2 separate regions of the Homo sapiens genome follow, and region 2 is linked to region 1. Evidence: fine-mapped expression QTL. A gene starts in region 1. The other region holds a variant in brackets. All regions are shown on one strand. Distances are between the middles of the regions.

What was found. PIP is the estimated chance that this variant, and not a neighbour inherited with it, causes the effect. A credible set is the group of variants that fine-mapping cannot tell apart.
Region 2: its variant is the best candidate, but not a certain one, in a credible set for the expression of CPVL-AS2 in hippocampus (GTEx, PIP 0.75).

What each region holds. Positions count from the first base shown.
Region 1 is chr7:28,978,095-28,981,014 of GRCh38, forward strand. CPVL-AS2 (CPVL antisense RNA 2) reads left to right here and starts at 1,873. Exons shown (of 5, transcript NR_038965.1): 1 at 1,873-2,004.
Region 2 is chr7:28,974,727-28,977,646 of GRCh38, forward strand. No RefSeq gene overlaps it. Among named protein-coding and RNA genes, the nearest start is that of CPVL-AS2, 3.8 kb to the right of the region's middle. The variant T/G (reference allele first, on the strand shown) is at 1,442.

The sequences.
Region 1 (2,920 bases):
CTGGCTCCTGTCACTGATAAATGACTAACTTGCTGACAGGGGCTCTACCATCTCTGAGTCTCTGATGTGGAGTCATTCCCCAGGGGGACCAGTCAGCCATCAGATTATTGCATGGAACTTCTATTATGAAGGACATGATTTTGTCCTCTAGAATAGACACTATTTATTTTTTCTTTCTTTCTTTTTAAATAGAGACAGGGTCTCACTCTGTCACCCAGGCTGGAGTGCAGTGGTGCAATCATAGCTCACTATAACCTTGAACTCCTGGGCTCAAGTGATCCTCCTGCCACAGCCTCCCAAGTAGCTAGGACTACAGGCACTCACCACCATGCCCAGCTCTTTTTTAAAAAAAATTTTTTTGTTCAGACAGGGTCTCGCTATGTTGCCCAGGCTGGGACACTATTTCTAAATATGCTGTGCATTCACTGCCTGCAGTGGGTTTATCAGTACCACCATCTGTGAACTTAACACAGAGCCTTATTTAATAGCATGATGATTATGACCAAAGAAGTTCTTTGCTTGTGACCAAAGAACTAATTTTACAGCAAAAGTAGTACAGCATTGGTATCATGCCCATGGGACTTATTGGATTACCATGTACTCCAGCACCCAAAGGTAGTTATCATTACAAAATTTAGAAATAGATAACTGAAGTTTCAAAAATGGTACCATCTGGAAGATAACTGCCTGCAGTCTAGGTGGCTTTCTTACTGCACGTAGATTATGCTTTGAATCAGCAAATGAGTGATGCTATGTCTCTCATAGTCAGGATACACAGACCTGGGAGTCAAGGGGTAAAAATGAGAGTGGCTACTCTCACTATCACATCCTGAATATCACTCACAGAATATTTGCCCTCCTTCTACAAAACATAGATCAGCTGGTTTAAAGGTCTTGATTCCTAGGAGAGAACGCTTCCTCTAGGGGAAACAATAACGTTCCACTGAACTGGAATTCGATACTTCTGTCTGCCCATTTCAAGTTTCTTCTGCCACTAAATGGACAGGCAAAGAAGAGGGTTACTTTTCTGGCTGGGGTGACTGAACAGAATTATTACCAGGGAGTAATTGGGTTGCCGTGACACACAATGGTGGCAGAGAGGACTATGTCTGAAGCCCTGGAAATTCTCCTGGGTGCCTCTTAGCACTTCCATGTCCAAGAGTAAAAGTTTCTGGAATAATATTGCAACCTGCAGGACAGCTAAAGACTTAGACCCTTCAAAAATGAAGGTTTCAATAATCTTGCCAAGAAAAGAACCCCAGACAACTAACTTCAGTTGCTGGCTGAAGGTAAAAGGAAGATGGAATGGACGTTGGAAGAAGTTCATTCTCAATTATTATTTAACTATTATCATCATCAGTCAACTAGTTTTGTTACCAGTCACCAAAACAAAACCCGTAGCAGCTATGCACATTTTCTTCTTTGTTTACTCTGCATAACACTGAGTGTTGGTGGTTAATTTTACAACTTAGCCTTTAGGTTGTAGAACATCCATTATAAAAGGTGCAATGGTGTCTGAAAGGAAAAAATTTAACATCACCCTGGGATGAATACAGTGGCTGAGGCCACTATCTTACAGGGTTTTACTCTGAATTATCTGTTTTAGGGAGAGAGTGAACTTGTGTTCATCTGTGTGAGGAATAAAATTGCATTCTGTGAGGAAGAAGTGTGATGTTGCTGTAGGGTGCGTACAATGGAATGTGTGGATGCTGAGTAGCAAAAGGGTGGATGTGCTGGATTGTGTCTCTTGACTCTTAAGTCCAAGTCCACCCTTCTGGATAATCCTCCATCCTCTTTCCCAGACTCACTCATCCAGCTGGTTTCATGGGAGGCGCTGGTGCTAGGTTCCAGTGTGGGAGGAGGAGATTAGCCATTTTCCCCAGCTGGCCTGGACTGCCTGTGCTCTGGGCTCCAGCAATCCGGGGATAGTTTCAGCAAGATCAACACTGAGTATCCCTGACAGGATTCAGCCAAGGGCCAGTGGCAGCTTCCCAGCCTCTTTGGGTAAGAGCCCCTTCTTTTTTTGCTCCTCAGTCCTTCCAGTAGTTTTTAACCAATTTCCTGTGTTCCATCCTACTCTGCTTGAGATATATAGAGAGGTTTCTACTTTTGTGTTTGAGCACTGAATGATACATAGTTCCTTCCATATCAGTCCATAGTGAGCTTCCTCATTCTCTAGTCAAAAAAAAAAAAAAAAAAAAAAAAAAAACCCAAACAAACAAACAAACAAAACAGGAATACATCATATTTATATGAGAAGACCCAATAATGGATATTTAGACTGCTCTCAATCTGCTCTTTTAATCAATAAGAGTAGTAAGTACATTTCCATTTCAGGAAAGTATTATCAAGGCATATATTTGGAAATTTTTGTGTCTTACCCCACTTGGAATTTTACGCGCCAGAGCTCTTATGCAGGAATCTAAATGGCTGAAATAGGATTAAACTAGACTGTGGAATCTAGAGAGCGTTCAACTGCAGCTGGTTATTTATTGCTTAATAAGTATTTTGAAGTATTGTTCGGCTATGTCCTAGCCTTATCTCTTCCAAATGAATTGCAAGCACTCGGAGCTTGATTTTTTGTCATCTTTTGAATATGTAAATGTGTCATGTTGGGAGGGGGGTTGGTAGTACCTCCCTCCTCTGTGATTCATGTCACCTGAATGTGTCATCCTACTGGCAGTCTAGGAAGAGCCCTGCATAGGTCTTAGGTTTTCTCTTGAGGAAGGAGCTCATGACACAGCCAGCACTTCCACATAGGATAGTAGCTCAAATAGAGGTCCAGTTTGTTTTATTATTGGGCTTATTCCAAATTCCTTTCCTGGGGCACTGTGCTTTAGAAATGCTTTTTTCTTAATTATGAAATATTTTAATTGATTTGTGGGCAGTGCCTCTTATTCAGCCTGTGCAGCCAGTCCCT
Region 2 (2,920 bases), 3.4 kb before region 1:
TCCCGAGTAGCTGGGACTACAGGCACATGCCACCATGCCTGGCTAATTTTTGTATTTTAGTAAAGATAGGGTTTTGCCATGTTGGCCAGGCTGGTCTCGAACTCCTGAACTCATGTGATCGTCCCACCTCGGCCTCCCAAAGTGCTGGGATTACAGGCGTGAGCCACCGCACCTGGCCCCCAATATCTTTTAAAATCCAATCCTTGAGATATTTCTTTTTCATTGCCTGGATGAAACTCAGGCACGCCACAGTTTCTGGCCCTTCCAGGATGTAGGGAATGTAGGGAGATAGAGTGGTAAGAGCAGAAAAGCTCTTTCTTGATTGGCATTAATGTGGTCAGGTTTCTCCAGAGTTGGCACATGTTTCAAGCCAACTGTCTTGTTGGGGCTTCTTAAGAGACCCCACTGAGAGAAGACCTCTTCATTAAAAGACTTCTTGATTTTAATGGATGATGGGTTCCTGGAGGGGCAGAACCAGGTGGCAGCTCTTATCCAGGAGCAAGGTGGGCACAGTTGCCGTAATGGTCATAATGGAGCAGCAAGCGGAACGTCGTAGCATACAGAGACCTTTGCTATTGGCTCACTATTCATAGTGGCCCTAGGACAAACTAGACGGGCAGTCTACTAAGAATTATCTGATTTATATAATCAGAAAATCTCTAGGTCTAGTGAATAGAAACCTGAGCTGTTCAATGGAGAGTCATTGCCTCTCATCTACATTCCAGACCTGAGTCAGTTCTAAAACACAGAAATCCTTAGATTGCCGATTTTCAAACCGTGGCCAAGAAGTTGCAGCAACAGCATCACCTGGGACTTTGTTAGAAATGCACATTATCAGACCCTGCCCCAAACCCACTGACACAAGAACTCAGGAGGTGGGTCCTAGCAATCTTCACTTCAGCTGATTCTGATGCATGCTAAGGCTTGAGAACTCTAAAGTTTAGATGAAGGAGAGGATTGGGAAGTTTGAGGAAGGCCCCTATAACATTGCTATAAGTATCTAGCATAAATCTTCCTTTCAGTCTTCCCCAAAAGACATGCAGCCATTCACTAGGGTAACTGTGTACTGAGGAAGGGGGCATATCCAGGCTTTTGGTAGATTTCTGGACATTGGTTCTGAGTCTATGCTAATCTCTAGAGACCCAAAATGCCTCTGACCCATTGGAGGGGGGTATCACTTATTGGTAATCAGGTAGTAAATGAAATTTGGACCTGTGGCTGCTTCATTGGATTCCAGTGGGTCTCTTCACCTGCGATGTGGTTATCTTCCCATTCCTGAATGGAGCTGTCATCTCAGAAACAAAAAGAGCCCATCTCCATATGGATTTTCTGTCTTGTGTGGTGAGTATTAGTATGGTAGGCAGGGCCAAGTGAAAGCTTCTTGGGATTTCCCCTTCCTATGTAAGAGTAAACTGAAAGCAATACCTTATCCCTGGGGAAA[T/G]GACAGCGATTAGTACTTCTATCTAACATTTGAACAGTACAAGAGTTGTTCTACTGTGTCCTCATTTAGCTCCTCTGTCTGGCATGTACAGAAGGAAGATGGTTATTGGAGAATGACTGTGAATTCTTACAACATTAACAAGTTACTAGACCAGATGTAGTCTCTTTTATTGGATAACACAGCAGAGCTCTTGGCACTTGGTATGCAGCTACGAATCTGGTGGATGCTTTTTCCCCCCGATACCAAATTAGCAAATATCACCAGAAGAAGCTTGCTCTCAAGCAGCTGGAGGAATGGCAAAACACCTCCCTATCTTACCTCAGGCCTGCGTTACCTCTCCTGCTCTCTGACGAGAACTAGTCTGCAGGAGCCTGGACCATCTTGGTATCCTGCAGAACATCCTGCTGATGTGTAATTGACATGATGAGCAGCAAGGAGCAAATATCGTACATGCCTTAATAAGACAAATGTATGCCAGGGGGTGGGAGATGATCCCCAAGAAAAATCAAACGCCTATTGCTTTGGTGAAGATTCTAGGGGTCCAGTGTGGTCTGGAGAATATTGGCATTTCCTCTCCAAAGTGAAAGACAAATTACTGTACTTTGTACCACCTATCACGAAGAAGAGCTATAATATTCTGTGGGTCTTTTTATTTTTGAGGTAACATAAACACTTTTAGAGTCTATTGTTCAGAGCAATGTTGTGAGTTACCTACTACGCTGCAAGTTTTGTCTAGGGACCAGTGCAAAAAAGGGCTCAAGAGAGAGCAGGGTTTCTCAGTCTTGGCACTATTGACATTTACGGGACAGGCAATTCTTTGCTGTGGGGCGGGCCTGTGCATTGCAGGATGTTTAATAGCATGCCTGGCCTCCACCTACCAGATGTTAGTAGCATCACTCCCCATAGTTTTGAGAACTGAAAATGTCTGCAGACATTGCCAAATATTTTCTGGGGTGCAAAATCACCCCCATTTGAGAACCATTGGGCTACAGCATGTCTAGTTAAGCTTTAAGGTGAGAATCATTGGGCTACAGCAGGTCTAGTTAAGCTTTAAGGTGACTACAGTACTGGCTGACAACTGGACTGCAGCCTCGTGAGAGACCCTCAGCCAGATTCTCCCAACTGTGCTGTTCCCAGATTCCTGACCCTCAGAAACAATGTAAGATGATAAATGCATGTTGTGAAGTTTTGGGGTAATTTATTACTCAGGAAACTCAGACAACTAATACACCAGTCCTCTGAGCCATAAGGTTAGGCATGCATGGCAGAAATCCATCATCAGGTGTAAGTAGTAAAATAGTATATACCAGGTTCGGTTTGAGCAGGTCCTTCAGGCACAAGTAAGTTTCAAGAGCAAGTGGCTGTGACTTCCATAGCATCTATTCTTGCTGCAATTTTAATTCACCATCAGTCCACATCTGTGACCTCTTAGGATTGACTGTTGACAGACTAAGAAAACATTTGGGCCTGGTTCGCAGA